Linked DNA regions of Homo sapiens: region 2 is linked to region 1. Evidence: fine-mapped expression QTL. Tissue or cell type: whole blood. Region 1 holds a variant in brackets; the other region holds the start of a gene. All regions are shown on one strand. Distances are from middle to middle.

The links.
Region 2: it holds the start of L3HYPDH, and the variant in region 1 is fine-mapped to the expression of L3HYPDH in whole blood (GTEx, PIP 0.91).

What each region holds. Positions count from the first base shown.
Region 1 is chr14:59,423,179-59,432,319 of GRCh38, forward strand. No RefSeq gene overlaps it. Among named protein-coding and RNA genes, the nearest start is that of GPR135, 38 kb to the right of the region's middle. The variant C/T (reference allele first, on the strand shown) is at 5,060.
Region 2 is chr14:59,480,045-59,489,185 of GRCh38, forward strand. It overlaps L3HYPDH (trans-L-3-hydroxyproline dehydratase), which reads right to left and starts at 4,364. Exons shown (of 5, transcript NM_144581.2): 1 at 3,765-4,364. The coding sequence starts at 4,272. JKAMP (JNK1/MAPK8 associated membrane protein) reads left to right here and starts at 4,473. Exons shown (of 7, transcript NM_016475.5): 1 at 4,473-4,549; 2 at 6,669-6,760; 3 at 7,630-7,784. The coding sequence starts at 4,546. It overlaps LOC124903326 (a long non-coding RNA gene), which reads left to right and starts at 7,791. Exons shown (of 2, transcript XR_007064196.1): 1 at 7,791-9,141. RefSeq lists enhancers at 824-923, 4,439-4,718.

The DNA.
Region 1 (9,141 bases):
GCCGGATTTGTGACAATTCTTGCAGACATTTACCCCGTAGTTCGCGAGCATCAATCCTCAGACTACAGCTAGTGGGGAAGCTGCACTTCATGGCATTGGATCTTTTATTTTTTTCTTAAACCATTTAGCACTTCAGCATTTATGCTAAATTCATCATGCCATGTGTTTTTCTGGATACATTTTATTTTCAAATGCTTCTATGATTGAATTAAAGAAATCAATTCCTATTTCAGTGTGACTATTTTTCCTATACTCTTCTTAGATGAATCTGTGACAAGAGAAGGGTTAAAAATCAATTTCATGTCAGTGAGCGGGTCATTGTTATTAGTACTTTTTAAGTACTTTGATATAACTTTGTTTTTTTGGAAGTGGGGTCTTGCTGTGTTTCCCAGACTGGAATGCAGTGTCATGATCATGACTCACTGCATCCTCGAACTCCTGGACTCAAGAGATCCTCCTGCCTCAGCCTCCTGAGTTGTTAGAATTACAGTCACCAGGCACTGTGCCCAGCTCTCTATATATTATTACAGAATATTATTTCATAAGCAAAATTGCAAACATAAAAAATTGAAAGTGCTTAGCAATAATAAAGCTCCATTCTAGAAATGTAGAAATTATTAAAAATTGTATATTTTAGTTATTCATGGATAATGCAAATATAACAGCCATTTTGTGCAAAATATATGATAAATCAGAGTAAACTTAAGAATGTCCATGTAAATTAATTTAATAGTTTTCATGCTTTCCCCAAATATGCTGAAAAGGTCTCACTTGCCCTAGGGAAGTACATACACATAAAGCATGCCTTAGTGAGGTCTGCAGTTTTGCTAAAATAAATCACTACTTTCCAACATTAAGGGGAAACAGTAATTTATAGGACTGCAGTGAATACAAGTTTTTTAAATTATGGTCTGTCCTAGGGGAAAACTACCCCTGTACAAATGTATTTACAAGAAAATAGTTGGAAAAGTTTGGAAGCCTGCGCACTGTGGCATAATCTTTTATTACCATAATTATTTGCCTAAGTTAAGGTGCTTATCAGACTTGATCTCAGCCCTAACAAAATTTGAAGTAGTAAAATAGCATTCAAGTAAGACCTACATCATTACAGCAATATCCCTGATTCTTCAGATTTGAGGAGCGCTAAAGTTTTCTGAGCTCTTTTATCATACTGCCTCTCCAATGAGGTTCCTTACCTAGAATAAATAAGAAATTAAAATATACTGATTTATAAGCCATTTGACAAGAGTAATTTGTAAATTAGGTTGGACCTAAGGATGAACTATGATGGTTTTATTGAGAAGATTACAACTAGTGTCCAGTCTCTGTAGGGAATTTTCTTCCCTCTAGCCAGAGCACATTTGAAAACTTTTCCTTTTATGGCTTTAGTTAAAGAAGAGAGTTGACCTCTACACAAACTCTCATGAGCACACATAGAGTTGTGTGGGGTTTTTCTTTTCTGTCACCCCCCATCACTTCATATTTTAGACAACCTAGGCCGAGGGTCCCCCATGTTCATCCCTTTCCTGCTGAGACCTAGGTCTCTTTGGAGCAGACTCCTTCCCTAGATTAATCCCATTGTCTGACTTTTCAACATCCCACAAAGGGCTGCTATGTCCTAATCAAACAAACAAACAAACAAAGAAAAAACACACATGGTTACATGGATTGGAGCCACTTAAAGTTCACGTTCTCGGACTTCTCCCCTCCCCTTGCCCTAGAGCTGTCCCATGGGATGCCCTTGGCAGCCTTCTCTTCCATCCTCTTCAAAGGCTCCACCTCCCTCAGACCCAACCACCTCCCTTCATCCCTATTCTCAACTGACAACTTCCCCGCTCACAAGCTAATCTACTCCTCACCCACCTTCATTCCTTTTTTTCCTTTCCTTTCATTCCAGGGGACAAGGCTACTCCTACCACTTCCCTCAGGAATCTTGTTCCATTAACTATTATCTCTCTGGTATTAATGTTCTATCTCTCCTTGATTGATTCTTTCCCTTAGCAGACACAGACCCTCTTGGATTTCCTGCCACCTCCCTGGTCCACATCTTGGGCTGACGGTCCTTAAATGTAGGTGGTCCCAGGCTGTTTTTGAAGCTCTCTTCTTTTATTACTCTCTATACTTTTCTTTGATATCCCCATATTTACCCTGTAACAGTCAGGATTCAGTCAGGAGATGGAACCACACCAGTTATGTTAACTGAGATAAATTAACATGAAGAATTGTTAACTATGTATAAAGTTGTTAACTAAGTAACCCAAAGAGTGAAAAGAAAACTCTAAGACATGGCAAAAGTAGCACCTGCAGGAAGCAACTCCACCTCTAGGGCTGAAAGGACAAAGGAAGAAGCTGGAATTACTAAAACCAGAATGTAGAAAAGAGACTGCCTAGTGAGGGACCCAGACCTTGGAAGAGGGGACATAGTTGGTCACTGCTAGTGTCTCTAAGCGGGGGTAAGAGGAAGCCGGTTTTGCAAGTGTTAAAAAAAAAACTACACACTGGCCCCAACAGCTGTTACTGGAATGATCTGCAACTGCTGGAGGGAAGCAGTGAGGTTGCAGGGAGACTCACATCCTGTCCTCCCTCCAGCCCTGCAGCTTCCCTCTATTAGCAGAGCCTAAGAAAAAGCCAAACGGTCAAGCAGAAATGAGGTTTGCAGAGTCCTAGCTCCAGCATCAGAAAGCATGTATGGAGAGCACATTTGGAAGAAAATATAAAAATGGGCACAACTCCACAGCCTCAAATATCACTGGAAGGGGCCGGGCACGGTGGCTCATGCCTGTAATCCCAGCACTTTGGGAGGCCGAGGCGGGTGGATCATTTGATGTCAGGAGTTCGAGACTAGCCTGGCCAACATGGTGAAACCCTGTCTCTACTAAAAATACAAATATTAGCCGGGTGTGTAATCCCAGCTACTCAAGAGGCTAAGGCAGGAGAATCACTTGAACCTGGGAGGTGGATGTTGCAGTGAGCCGAGATTGTGCCATTTCACTCCAGCCTGGGCAACAGAGCGAGACTCCGTCTCAAAGATAAATAAAAATAAATAAATAAATAAATAAATAAATAAAACCACTGGAGGATTCAACAATCTGTTTCCCTAGCCCAAGTTTCTCTCTTGAACTCCAGGCTTTTTTAACCAGCCTCCTGTTGGAATATTTCTTTGCATGCCCTATGGTTACTTCAGACTCATTATGTTCTAAATTGCTCTCATTACCTTTCTCTTTCCCAGCCTGTCCTCTTCTTCCACCCTGCTCTCTCCATGTGAATGAGTACCACCGTTATGTCTTTATGAAATGCATAAATGTTATTTCATCAGTACACCTCTGGCCTTTTGCGCTCAAATTGAATCAATCATTAGAGCCCTTTCACTTCCCTTAATATCTCTCAAATCAGTTCCCTCCTCTTCAGTCCCATTTCTACTCTCTTAGTCTCTACCCCCTGTCATTTCCTACCAGATTAAAACATCGTCTACTAACTGGTCTTGCTGTCTCACATTTTACTCTGCTGCCATACTCTGGGCTCTAATTTCCTGACAGTGATCCCCTATACAAGCAGAATGATCTTCCTTAAATGCAAATCTTGTCACCCTGCTCCCTGCCTAAAATCCTTTACGGGCTTCTCCCAATCTTCAAAATTCCTTTCTCTTTGGTATGACTTAGAAAGTTGTCCAGCTTTAATTCTAGCCTCTACTTCTGTCCCCACCCTCTTTCCTCATTTCAATCCAAATTCAATCATCTGAGCATACCGCACTACCTAGCTTTCTTCAGCCTTGCCATGTTCTTCATGGCCTCTGCATGTTTGTACATCCCCTTGCCTTTTCTGGGTTGATCTTCCTATTTCTCACTTCTGACCCTTCTTCCCCTTTCTAACTTTTTTCCACCCTTCAAGATTGAACACAAGTTTTAACTCCTAGGGGTATTTTCTCTGTCTCAGCCCTCATGCCCGCCCCTGGTCTGTCAGGGTCTCTCCCTTGAGCCCCCACACCCCTTCATGTTGGGCTTCTTGGGGCTATTCCTGAGTGGTTAGGAGTGAGAGTTCTGAAGCCAGACACTGTGTTCAATTTCCAGCACTTCATATTGCTGTACGTGTGACCTCGGGAAAGTTATTTAGCCATGCCACCCTCAATCCCTGCATATGTAAACCAGGGCTTATAATAATACCTTCTGATAGGTGGTTATGAAGATTAAATGAGAGATATGCAAAAGCCCAATTCCAGTTTTTGATCATTCTTTTCAAAGTGTCTCACATAATTCTCTGGCTACTGGTACATGTAGATTATTAAAACCAGGGCACAAATTGATAGTGCACTGCTTTATCACAACACTGCTGTTCTGCTAAAACCCTCAGCCACATTTATCTCAGAAGGGCCAGGACCAGATGGACACTATCATTGACTTGAGTCTATAATTATTTGGGGATGGGCTCAAGTCTTGCATTTTTGTTTTTTAAGATACTAGGGTCTTCCACTCTCTTTAGGAAAAAGAGCGAATGCTTTGCCAGCCCTATTATCCTCTGACTGGTGTTAAAGCGCATTTAGTGGGAATGTCATTAACTTTTTCATGGGAAAGATGAAATTGGCCAGCACCCTGTTTCTCCCTTCCAGTTTTGCTGTGCTCCTGGCTGTGCCTAGAGAGGGAAATCCAATGAAGCGTGAGGTCAGGCAGCCCAAGCTCTTCCCCAGGGTGCACTCAGCCAGCAGGCCTCGGTCCTACCTTGAGGCAAACACTCCTTCTAAATGTTTATTTATGCTTTTGAACCCAAGGTCCAATGGGAACATGAAACATATGATTCCAAAAGAGATTACCCCCCACGGATTTCTTCTACCACACACAGAGAAAAGGAAAACCATGTATAAGCCAATAGTTGGGAACTTCTCCAGAGAGCTTCTGACCGCCATGTATGAAGCCCTTAAATATAGCTGTGGGGAGAGCAATGCCCAGGGAAGGCACGTGGACAGAATGAAGGCGCAGGCGTGTATTTTGTTTTAATTTTCTTTTCACCAGACCTATCCTTGACTTTTCACAGATTTCCCCAGCCGAAGAATCAGGATGGATGATAA[C/T]ATGGGAGAAAAATGTTCCACTGTGGCCAATCTGTGTTCCTCCGGAGAGTCACTTATATGCACGTGGATGGGCAGCCGGGAGCCCTGGTTGGACCATGAAGCAGCTGGGGAGGTCAGGCTGCTCCCTGGGAGCTGGGATGGAGTGACCTCTGTCTTTTGGTTCTCTGGCTTTGGTCCCACAGCAGACTGTCACCTCAGATGGCCTCACTGAGTCAGAATGAGTTACTGGCAAGTTAGCAACAGTCAAGCTATATGATGTCCTCCTGTGTCCCCCTCTGAGAACACTGAGAGTCTGACACTCCTACTGCTAGGCTGTGAAAATGACTAAGAAAAATGTAGTAGGGATGGCTTTTTAAAAAGCATGACAAGTTTTTTAGCCTTGCTCAAAAAATACCTCTCCTTAAGGAAAAAAAGCAAGAGGACCTGAGCATAGGCGTGGGGGTGGGAGGGAGCTAAAATACTAATGTCTCTAGGGGAAGTTGCCTTCAAAGGAATATAGGACTGCAGGGTGACTCATGTTCCCTGGAAATGGTTTATGTTCTAATACTGAATCTGTAGAATCACAAAACCAGATTGTATGCAAGCATTTTGCACATGTTCATCATCATTGTTACATGTCACAAGTATATTACTTTTATAACAAAAGTCTTATAACCAAGTTGTGTCTTTACTTTTTATTCTTCCACACTGCAGCTCCCCCTGCCTGGCATGTAGAAGGATAATCAGAGTGCTGGTCCTGCATGAAAGGAAGCTATCACAAACTATTAATGAGAGATGTTTGAGCCATTTTAAAATTGGTGAGAGATAAAATTTTTATTTTTTAAAATTAGAGTCAGCTTGTAGTTATTCACTGTAAAGAAATAAAGAAAAACATATAAGCTTAAATAGTTGGCTTTCGAATATATTTTATATAAATATATTTGAGTGTATTTATTTCTACTTCTGAATATAGTTTTCATCTAGGATTTTGGGAAGCCAAGTAATTTCCTACAAACTAAATGAAGTACATTGACTTCATACCTTTAAAAAAAACCCAAAAAAGGGCCGAGCGCAGTGGCTCACACCTGTAATCCCAGCACTTTGGGAGGCCGAGGCGGGCGAATCACGAGGTCAGGAAATCGAGACCATCCTGGCTAACATGGTGAAACCCCGTCTCTACTAAAAATACAAAAAAATTAGCCGGGCATGGTGGCAGGCGCCTGTAGTCCCAGCTACTCGGGAGGCTGAGGCAGGAGAATGGCGTGAACCTGGGAGGCGGAGCTTGCAGTGAGCCGAGATCGTGCCACTGCACTCCAGCCTGGGCGACAGAGCGAGACTCCGTCTCAAAAAAAAAAAAAAAAAAAAAACCCAAAAACAAAACAAAGAACACTCTGTTTAAACGAAATTGCTCAGAAGCCCTATATGTAAAATAGGTATAAATGGAGCAGCTTTGGTTGAAGCAGAAATTACAGGCCTTAAGCCGAGCCCTCTTGGCTGTCATGTGCACCTCATAGCAACACAAAAGGTGCTCTGGAGACAGCAGTTTACATAAGAAAATGAACACACACAAAGATGTTCACCATCATTAGCCACTAGGGAAATTCAGATGAAAACCGCAATGAGATATCACTGCACACCTATCAGAATAGCTAAAATAAAAAAGGGTGATGATACAAATACTGGCAAAGATAGGGAGAAACTATGTCACTCGTGCACTACTGGTGGGAATGTAAAATGGTATAGCCACTCTGGAAAGCAGTTTGGCAGTTGCTTAAAAAGCTAAACACGTAACTATGCAACCAAACAATTGCACTCCTGGGCATTAATCCCAGAGAAGTGACAACTTATGTTCACACAAAAACCTGTACGCTAGAGTTCATATGAGCTCTATTTGTAATAACCCCCAAATGGAAATAACCTAGATGTCTTTCAACAGATGAATAGGTTAAACTGCAATACATCTATATGATAGAATACCACTCAGCTATACAAAGAAGCCAATTATTAACACATCAAACCTGGGTGAATCTCCAGAGGATTATACCATGTGAATAAAGCTGATACCAAAATGTTGCATACTGTATGATTCCATTTATATAACATTCTTAAAATGTCAAAATTATAGAAATGGACAAAAGATTCATGTTTTCTAAGGGTTAAGAATGTGGGAGGGAAGTGGAAATGGCTTTAAAGGGCATGAAGGATTGTGTTGGTGATGAAACGACCTGTATTTTGTCTGTATCTACATCAATATTCTGGATGTAATAGTGTACCATAGTTTTGCAAGACGTTGCTATTGGTAAAACTGGGTTAAAAGTACATGAGATTGGCCGGGCGCGGTGGCTCACGCCTGTAATCCCAGCACTTTGGGAGGCCGAGGCGGGCAGATTACGAGGTCAGGAGATCGAGACCATCCTGGCTAACATGGTGAAACCCCATCTCTACTAAAAATACAAAAAATTAGCCGGGCATGGTGGTGGGCGCCTGTAGTCCCAGCTACTCAGGGGGCTGAGGCAGGAGAATGGCCTGAACCCAGGAGGCGGGCTTGCAGTGAGCCAAGATTGTGCCACTGCACTCCAGCCTGGGCGGCAGAGTGAGACTCCATCTCAAAAAAAATAAATAAATAAAATAAAATAAAAGTACATGGCGTCTCTGTATTATTTCTTACAACTGCATGGGAATCAAAAACTTTTTCAGAATAAAAAATCTATAATAATATTTTAATCCTAAAAAGATGATCTCTCGAAATCCTGTGTTCAACTGTAACTTGGATGTCACTTGTTTCACCCTGTTCAGACTGATTCATGCATCACTCTAGTGATGGCAGTGTGCCCTTCAGACAAATGTCAGGTTACAGGTGAAGTTCAACTTCCCTCCTTCTAATCCAGTAAAAAGCACTTACTTGAGTTAATATCATGAATCAATGAAGTATTCAGTGCTGGAAATGAACCTACTGTTTTGTTTTGTTTTTTTTTAAGTTCATACCTCCTCTGAACTAGATAGGCATTTAAGTGATAAAGCAGAGGAAGCAAGAAGGAGATATCAATGAGAAATGATTGGTTGGTTGGATCATGGCATGTACCTACCTCACTTCAAAAAGTGATTTAGGATATGTTATTTTAAAAATACGTGTTCTATATTGTGGTAGGCCGAGTGGTAGTCCTCCAAAGAGGTCCATGTCTTAATCCTCAGAACATGTGAATATGTCACCTTGCATGGTAAAAGGAACTTTGCAGATGTGACTAAGTTAAGGATCTTGAGATGAGAGATTAGCCTGTATTATGCAGGTGGGCCTGATGTAATTGTAAGGTTCCTTACAAAAAGGAGGGAGGAGTTCAGAGAGAGGAGAAGAGAATTTGTTAAGGAAAGCAGATATTGGAATGATATGGCCATAGCCAAGGAAACTGGCAGCCACTGGAAGCTGGGTGAGGCAAGGAATATTCCCTCTGAAGCCATCAGAAGGAATCAGCCCTGCTGACACCTTGATTTTAGCCCTATAAGATTCATTTCTGATTTCTGACTTCCAAAGTTTAAGAGAAGAATAAATATGTGTTGTCTTAAATCACTGCATTTGTGGTAATTTGTTACAATAGCAACAAGAAATTAATTGAAGGAGAAGAAAATAAAGAGGGGAAAATATGATGAAGCAATAGCTTACTCTTTCTTGTGTCTAATTTTATTGAAATACTAATTTGAAAGCAAGATTTACTTCTTATAAACTCTATGTAGACTGTGCACTTGAAAGCTTACCAAACAAAACAAAAACAAAAAAATCAGTCAACTCGCGTAGCGAGACATTGTATAATCTCTAATAATTAACTTTTTTGTACTCTGCCAGTAAAAAAGCTCATATTAGAAATTATTTTTAGGTCAGGTGCAGTGACTCACATCTGCAATCCCAGCACTTTGGGAGGCCAAGATGGGCAGATCACTTGAAGCCAGGAGTTCAAGACCAGCCTGGCCAACATGGTGAAACCCCATCACTAATAAAAATATGAAAATTAGCCAGGCACGGTGGCCTGTAGCTACTCAAGAGGCTGAGGCAGGAGGATCCTTTCAACATGGGAGGCAGAGGCTGCAGTGAGCTGAGATCACGCTACTGC
Region 2 (9,141 bases), 57 kb after region 1:
GTTTATTTCGCCCCTTCTCAAATTTTCCTCTTCCCTAATTTAAGCTAGCTTGGTGATCACTGCCTTTTAGGGAAGCCTATGGCAGGGGAGAAAGCTTGTCTTTCATGTTTTTATTTTAGGGAAGCCTAAGCTCTCAGGGGAAAGACATCTGTTGGCAAAGGAGTGTCCTGAAGGGAGAAATATTTCTCCTAGAGATAAATTTTTTCTCCCTTGAGAAGAGTGGAGGCTGAAGGTCCTTAGTGCAGAGAGGACGTGTGTTAACTTCCCCCAGGGCACCACAGGAGCAGGAGTGAAGAAACAGAGGATGGGGAGGCAGTGCAGAGGGCAAGGACCAGGTAGGGTGGGGCAGCCAATGCTCCTGCTCCACTTTGCTGGTTAACTGTGTAAGCTGAGGACTGAAGTGCCATCCTCTCCAAGGCCACAGCACTTTTAAGAAACCTTTGCTCACACATATCAGGAAAGGGGACAACACATGGAGTGATGAGGCTAAGTGAACCAAAAGGACAGAGTAGAGTTTCAGCTTCAGAAATTAAGTTTTGGGAAAGAAAATATATCTTGTGTTCCTGAGTTTTCATACAAGGTCATACAAAGATATCAGTATGCTATCAGTCCACAGAAGGCTATCAGTATGCTATTAGTCCACACTAGTCCACAGAAGCCCTTTTAACCCATGATGTGTTAAAACAGAGCAAGTTTATAATCAAAAGAGTAAAACATGCTGTGGATTGTAACAACAAAACTGAATAAAAAATGTCTTTATCTTGATGCTGGCGCAACATGAAAAGCAAGTTTAATGAAAAGAGAATGGGCAAGTTGATAGAAATGAGGGACTGCTGGAAGGTGGAAAGCTAAAGTGAGGGTGAAGATCAGCACTTACCAGGAGACACAGGTGACGGTCCCAGGGTTCAGTCGGCCTGCCCTCTTCCCTTGATTGTAACAACTAAATGGGGCATTGGCCACCAATCCCGGGACCAGGATGAAATTGGGAAGCTGGTTCAGGAGAAGTCATCCCTGAGCCTACAATCATTTCCCTGGCCCAACCTTTCTAGAATCTTGGGTCTGGTTTTCTTAGGGTGGGCAGTTGGGTAGGGTGCTACACCTCACTGAGTTTCAGTTTCCTTTTCTTTAAAATGGACCAAATTTCCTTTAAAGTTACTCTTGTCCACCAATTATCTGTGACTATTTCATTTTTTAATCACTAAATTACTAACATTAAAAATTAAGATATTTATTTCACCCATGAGTACTTCCTATGTGGCAGGTCTTTACATACACTAGCCCCTTAATTCATTACATTAGTGCCTTAATTACTACAGCCCTGAGAGGTAGGTACTGTTTTACTTACTATCTTTACATTATTCCCTGGTTTACCCACTAAATAAGTGGCAGAGCTTGGGGTCAAACCCAGGACCAGGTGACTCCAAAGCCCAAACCCTTTCTACTAAAATATACAACCTCTATCCAGAACACAATCCAAAATCTAAGGGTTTTTCTTTTCTTCTATACAAGCATATCACTGAAATTTCAATTTGATTTACTTTGCTCAAGATTTAGTGAGCACCTACTATGTGCCGATTACTGTAGAAGATACGAGAAGTACAAGGAATAAAACATAGGCTTTTCCCCTTCTTGGAGTTTAGTTGGACAAGACAGATTTTAAAATGCTTTAAAATACACTAAGCACTATTCTAGAAAATTGAAACATATCTCCTTAAACTACAAAAAATTTTAAGGATGAGAGGGAAGCAATATGATAGGCCAGGGTTCCAACCCTAGTTCTGCCATTAGTGTGGCTTTGGTGTCTTGTGCAAACTGTAACTGCTATTTCTCCTAAAAGAGTTGTTTTGAAAATTCCACGTATGGGGAGTTCCTGGCACAGATTAGGGACTCGAAAGCCAAAACTTTAATTTCCAGTGGCAATAGGTTTCTCAAGAGGACCAGATGTTTACATTTGTCAATCAGCATATTCTTCTCCAAATTTCATTTATTTAGTTACTCATTCAACAAACATTCATTGACTGACTACTCTTCTAGGCACTTAGAATACTGTGAACAAGAAAGAGTTTGCATTTTAGCCTGGTGGGGTGGAGATGAACTCAGCAACCCTCTGAGGTGGGTACTGTTGTCATCCTCATTTTGCAGACTGTGATACTGAGGCATGGACTCTCTAGCACAAGGTCACTGAGATGGGGAGAGGTGGGGCAGTGACCTTGAACACTATGTCTGCCTTGTATGCATTTTTCAAAGTAGAGAATATAGCATTTCATTTTCTTAACTCAGTGACCATTAATGCCCACTAATCATTGTACTGTCATACAGTGATGCTCTCAGGAACTACTGAGAGGAACTACTGAGGTCAAGTGGTTGACTGACCCTGCCCTAACTGACCCAGAAATGAGATGTAGTTTGTGTTCCTGCTGCCAGCTGCCATTTCCTACAGAAGTCTAGAGTGTTTCTACTCTGCTGCTGGAGTTGCCTAGGGGGAATTCTGGTAGCCACGCTAGTTAAACTGTTGAGGTTTTAAAAATGGAATCGTAAACATAAATTCTGTCTCCCTCAAGTGGCCTCCCAGTCTGGAAGTGACACCATTCTCTGGGAAAATGGCATCAATTTCTCCAGAGGCATTCTTCGTTAACTCGTGGATTTCAGCTGCCTAAGGTTGCTCTAAAAGTGCCTGTTCTATCAGTTATCATTCATAATCAGGCTAATCTGAAACCTAGTTCTTCAGGGGGAATCAAGGTCCAACTTTCTAACAGATGATTTGCATGGCTTGAAGATTTTTAAGAAAAGGATAACTCTATTCCTGGTAAACTGGCTCCTGGCTCACTTCCAGTCACAATGACTAAAGCATTCTTACTGATAGAATTCAGCTCCTGGGAGGTAGTAGTCTGATGAGAAACCAGATGCCAGCTTGCCAGGTCATCCCTCCTGTAAGGGTTATGGTTATAGAGATGCCCTGCTTTACATGATAAGCTGTACAAGGATCTGTACTAGAGAATCCAGCAAAACCTTTTAATGGCTCAATAGGCCTAGGGAACTTTAGCGATCATATAAACCTTGCAATCTATCTCCAGGAATACAGTATCTTGCATACTCTCATTTAATCCTAACAAAAAAACTCTATGAGGGAAAAGAAGAAACACAGGCACAGAGAGATTAAGTAATTTGCCTAAGGTTGCACAGCTTTAGGGGGTTATCAGGATTTGAAACCAGGCAATGTGTGTTCCTGTTCTTAAAGAAAAGCAACATTCGTATCTTAATGATTTATAAACTGCTTTGTTCATTCATTCTCATTTAATTCTTCAAAGAAGTGGGGGAGGTGAGGAAAGGAGACCAGGTTTAGTAACTTATTAAGTGTGATTCTGTGTCTACCAAGCATATTCTCAGCCAGCCTGGAACCCTGGTACATTGGCTGTTCTTCGCTCTTTCCTTGACCCCACCGTACCTTGCTTTATCCACCGGTGAAATCTCTAGGAATGCCTCACCAGTGCAGAGGGAGGCGCTGAGTCAGGGTAACACGCAATTCCTCGCTCCTCAAGGGTCTCCCAAAACCACAGGCGGATGGGAGTCAGGGAAAATCGAAATTACACGCACCAAATACGCAAGGCTGCTGACACACGTTGGCAGTGATTTACCTTTCTATTAATTGCAAGGTTTCGCGGAGTAGGTTAGTTGCCAGAGTTCCAGCCCAGAAAAACCGTTAATGTAGTTAGTCGCGTCCCGGTTGCAGCTCTGCCCTGGGCTGGAAAGGTCCCGCCCATTACCTGTGGCCAGCACGAAGGCCGGGACGCTGTGGAAGCGCACCGGTCCGTGGCTGCGGCCGTCCTCGCATGCCACGAAGGCGGTCACCAGCCCGCAGGGGCAGTGGATATTGACGCGGGCCTCGCGGGTGCCCGCAGGGGGCGCCGGCACAAGCCCGAAGTCCAAAGCGAAGCGGCCCAGCGCCAGCACTGCGTGGCCGCACATGGAGCTGTAGCCCTCGTTGTGCAGGAACAGGACGCCCAGATGCGCGTCCGGCAGCTCGCTCGGGACTAGGACCGCCCCGTACATGTCCCGGTGCCCTCGGGGCTCGAACATGAGCCGTCGCCGCACGTGGTCAAGGTGCTGGCGCATGTAGCGCCGCTTGGCCAGCAGGGTGGGCCCAGACACCTCCGGACACCCCGCCAGCACGATACGCAAGGGCTCGCCGCCCGTGTGCATGTCCACCACCGACAGCACCGGCGTCCCTGGATCATGCGGGGGCAGCCGGGGCACCGCCAGCGCGCTCTCCATGGTCTGCGTCGGGGGAGACGAGTACGGTCCCGCAGCTATGGCTTCAAGCCCGACCCTCACCCACTGACTCCGCGGGAGGAGGGCGGGACGCTAACCAGCCACGTCCGGGGGGCGGGGTCTCGGAGCCTAAACCCGGAAGCGAGGGAGGAACTTCGGAGCTGTCGCCCGGGTTACCGGGAGGCGGAGCCGCCGAGCTCGCTGTGGCCCGGATGTTCGGTGCAGCTGCCAGATCCGCTGATCTAGTGCTTCTCGAAAAAAACCTTCAGGCGGCCCATGGGTGAGTGGTCGCCAAGATCCCGGGAAGCGTTTCTGGTAGTCCCGACTACTTTCCTACACGGCTGGCCTCGGGCTCGGCTCTTTGTAGGCGGCCTTCGGTTGGCGGCGCAGGCTCGCCCCTTGACCCCGCCCGCCCTCGGGCCGGGCTCCGCACTCCTGCGGGGTTGGGGTGGTCTGTCCGCAACGGGCTACTAGGGGAGGCGCGCTGTCTGCGGCGAAATGCCAGGTCTTTGTTGTTTGGTCCGAAATGTCTCTTCAGTCCCTTAGTTTAATGTCGAGGGAACACTTGCTTGAGGGTTGACTTCGGAATTGAAAACGCGGGTGATAGTGCAGAAAAAACAGTAAAGCAGAAGCAAGTTGCTGCATAATTTGTCTACTGCTTCAACCTCAAACGTAGATTTATAGCGCCCGTCACAAAGGGCAGGACCGCTGCAAAAAAATGGAATCTTAAAACTTTAGCCATCGTTCGCTAAAGGAAATGAAAGGAGAAATTCAACAGTCGCTTGGAGCCTGGGTTTTGCTTAGTAAGTGATAGGCTGTTTATTTCAGTTCAGTTTATCATACTGGTTTTCAGGCCTTGGATTTTGAGAAACTTTAGATTATTGATATTCACGTGTATTTATTAAGCATCTACTAGATGTAAAGCCCATACAGAAGTTTCCAATTCCTTACCTTCTGCATTCTTGAAAAACCTGAAATATTCATTTTCATGTATTAATTTAGAACATTGTGATTACAATTGGTTACAAAAAAAATAAGCGCCCATTAAAGAGGCCAGTGGGTTTAAAAAGCTAAGTCCGAAATTTGTTAAAAGCGAAAATATTAAACTGGAGGAATATTATTCAATGCTGTTTCTCTTTTTCTCTCAGCAGCATAAGGAGAAGGAAGTAAAAAGTCTGCTTGAATGTGAAAGGAGAGAAGGCACTGTAGACCAGGCAGTCTAGATTGTGAATTCGTGAATAATTTGGGAAATGATTGTTCAAGAATAGTCAAAAGATGCATAATTTTTCAAATTAATTCACATGTAGACCGCAGTTTGTTTTGAGACGGAGTCTCCTTCTGTAGCCCAGGCTGGAGTGCAGTGGCGCGATCTCGGCTCACTGCAACCTCTGCCTCCTGGGTTCAAGCGATTCTCCTGCCTCAGCCTCCCCAGTAGCTGGGACTACAGGCGCGCGCCACCACGTCAGGCTAATTTTTGTATTTTTAGTAGAGACGGGGTTTCACCATTTTGGCCAGGCTGGTCTGGAACTCCTGACCTCATGATCTGCCCACCTCGACCTCCCAAAGTGCTGGGATTACAGGCGTGAGCCACCTCACCGAGCCTGTTTGTTTGTTTTAATCAATGAATGAATGAAGGGAATCAGATGTCACTGATGAAGAAAACTTCCATAATTTCTTGTGAATAAGGTCAAAGACAACGTATTAGGTTCTTAGTTGTTGGGGTTTTTTTAAGTAAGGAATAGCTGCTTTTCCCCTAAGCCTTTAGATCAGGGGCTTAATTTTAATGCAGTGGTTTCTAAAATATTGGCCCAGTGACAGCCTTGATGAAATTTTCACTTATCCTCCACAAAAATGATAAAAGCTAGGACAATGTAGGAAACTTTTTATAAAGGTAATTTGCATACCTCTGTTATGAAATTATGTTCTCTCTGCTTTTCCCATGTGAAAATGTGTTCTGTTATGAACATAGGTGATAATGATAATTGTGTGTCTACATGTGGGTGCTTAATGTCCTGACTGGGCAAAATACAAGGTGGTGACCCTCTACTGGTGCTCTAATTTAAAAATATATGTATATTTGAACTTTATAATCAGTTAAACTCAGAAGTATCCTCTAATCATACCGGGTTAGGCTTTGAGTCCTGGAGATAGATCCTGCTCTGCTGGTTGAGGACCTTAATCATAAGGCACGGTATTAACAGCAAGGTTCCAGGATAACTGTCTGCAGTGTCACAGTGTAAAAGGAGAAATGTAAATTTAAAAATGCTTCAAGACTTTTGTCTAATACATATTATTCAAAAATTTGAAACTGTTATTTTTGCCAAATGCTTCAGCTATTATTGCAATTATTTTTTATAATCACAAAAGATGTTACTATACTGGCATTTGTTTTTAAAAAGCTGTCGATATTCAACCAGCATGCCTTGGACTTTATTGTGGGAAGACCCTATTATTTAAAAATGGCTCAACTGAAATATATGGAGAATGTGGGGTAAGTCTTATGTTTGTATCTTATTTCATTTTGTAAAATCTATTTGCTTTTGAAATATTTTCACATACAACATTTTTTGTTATTATACTCATTAATTTATAAAAGAATATGGAGGACCAGGCGCAGTGGCTCATGCCTGTAATCCCAGCACTTTGGGAAGCCTAGGTGGGTAGATCACTTGAGGTCAGGAGTTCGAGACCAGCCTGACCAATATGGTGAAACCCCATCTCTGCTAAAAATAGAAAAAAATTAGCTGGGCATAGTTGTGTGCGCCTGTAGTCCCAGCTACTCGGGAGGCTGAGACAGGAGAATTGCTTGAACCTAGGAGGTGGAGGTTGCAGTGAGCCAAGATTGCACCACTGCATTCCAGCGTGGGCAACAGAGGGAGACTCTGTCTCAAAAAAAAAATAAAATAAGGAAATATAAAAGAATATGGAGGCATTAATATAGTCATTGTTCATGTTGGCATTTTGATGTCTATATTATTTTTTAAAACATTTAATAATTTTATAATAATTTCTAATTTATGATTTGGTACCGTGTCTTGTACAGTAAGTTGAACATCATGAATCCAGAACATTTATCTGCAGTTATTCTTATATAATGTTAATAACTAGGTTTTTCATTGAATGTTAGTCAACTATTTTAGTAACTTAGTAAAAGGAATCTTCTAAGAGCATTGTACAAATATAGCACATACAATATAGATTTCTTTTTATTTTACTTATGCCCTCTTTTTTATTTCTAAAAGCTGCACATGTAAACTTAAATATTTAAACTGAAATGGGATGTCTTATAGAATGATTTGGGGGGGTGTTAATGTTGTAAAATAATATCTGTACACAAAATATTGGTTTTATATATTATAGGTATGCCCAAGAGGACAGAGAACGAATGCACAGAAATATTGTCAGCCTTGCACAGAATCTCCTGAACTTTATGATTGGCTCTATCTTGGATTTATGGCAATGCTTCCTCTGGTTTTACATTGGTTCTTCATTGAATGGTACTCGGGGAAAAAGAGGTTAGCACATTTCTATGAACATATCTGGCTGGACTAATGTTGGAATAATTATCACTCAGAAGACCTTATTAAGTAATTATGCTTCTTCTGTTTTAAAAGTGGTAAACATGTTTTTCTTTATCTTCAGATTATTCTTAACTGTGACAAGAAAACTTAACAATAGGGCATGACTTAGTAATTTTTAAGGGAACTGTCCTTAGTCTGTTTTACTCTCAGTGATCTTGAAGGAATACTTTTACTTCTCAACTATAATCCTTATTGGTTTTCTACACAAAATTGGTTATGATTACAAGCTATTTATTGTTATGGAACACATTCTTTGTAATTTAATTTAATACTAATAATCTAGTATGATGTAGTTAAAAATGATATAGCTGTAACCTAATACAAAAACTCATATTAACATATTAAATCAGCACACATTTACTAAGCACTGCATTTTATGTTTGGAAGATCAGGGAAGGAGATATAAAAATAACTGACATGGCTTATAGTCATAATCTTGTGGAGAAAACAAGTGTGTACATAATTATAAATCAGTCTTAGAAATGTAGTGGAAGAGTTATAAACAAAGTACTCTGGAGTTACAAAGAACAGAGAGATAAATTATGCCTCATGGGATCTGAAAGATTTCAAAAAAGGAACATTTTAGGCAGAAGAAACAGCATGAATAATGGCATAGAGGTATGAAATATGTGATCTGTGGTAGGCAGGAATGGAAGTAATCTGGGGTAGTCAAGAGTGGGTTGCAAATGAAGAAAAGTAATATAAAGGGGAGTAGGAAAGATAGGTTGAGGCCAGAATGTGAAGGTTCTTGATAAGCATGTGAACTTTAATCTGCTGGGAATGGGAAGTCAAATTCTGCCTTACTGATTTTCTTTTAGTTCCTCCAACTTCTCAGGATCTTTCCTACTTTAGGTTCTTTCCCTTCCTGCAAACTCTTTCTGCTGTCTGAAATACTCTCTTCATCTGACTGCAACTTGTTACCTAGCTACCTTCTTTTCCTTCTGATTTCAGTTTAAAAGTCACTCAGAAAGTTGAGTACTAAAAACAAAACAACAACAACAAAACAAAGAGTGCCCAATTAAAAGAGAAAAATAAGGAAGACAGCCTACTTTCTATTCTTTCCTTCTAGGCCTCTGGGCCTGTGGTCGGACAGGCAGTCTGAAAGACTTCTGAAATGCCTTCAAGCCTTTTTCTCATTGTGTTGGCTATTAGCACTTGGCTCTCTTTTAGCCATGCTAACCTCTCTAGCAAGTTGCTGTACAGCCTGGTTGAATTCCTCTCCTGAAAATGCTTTTCTTCTCTACCACATGGCCAGGCTGCACATTTTCCAAACTTTTAGACTCCGCTTTCC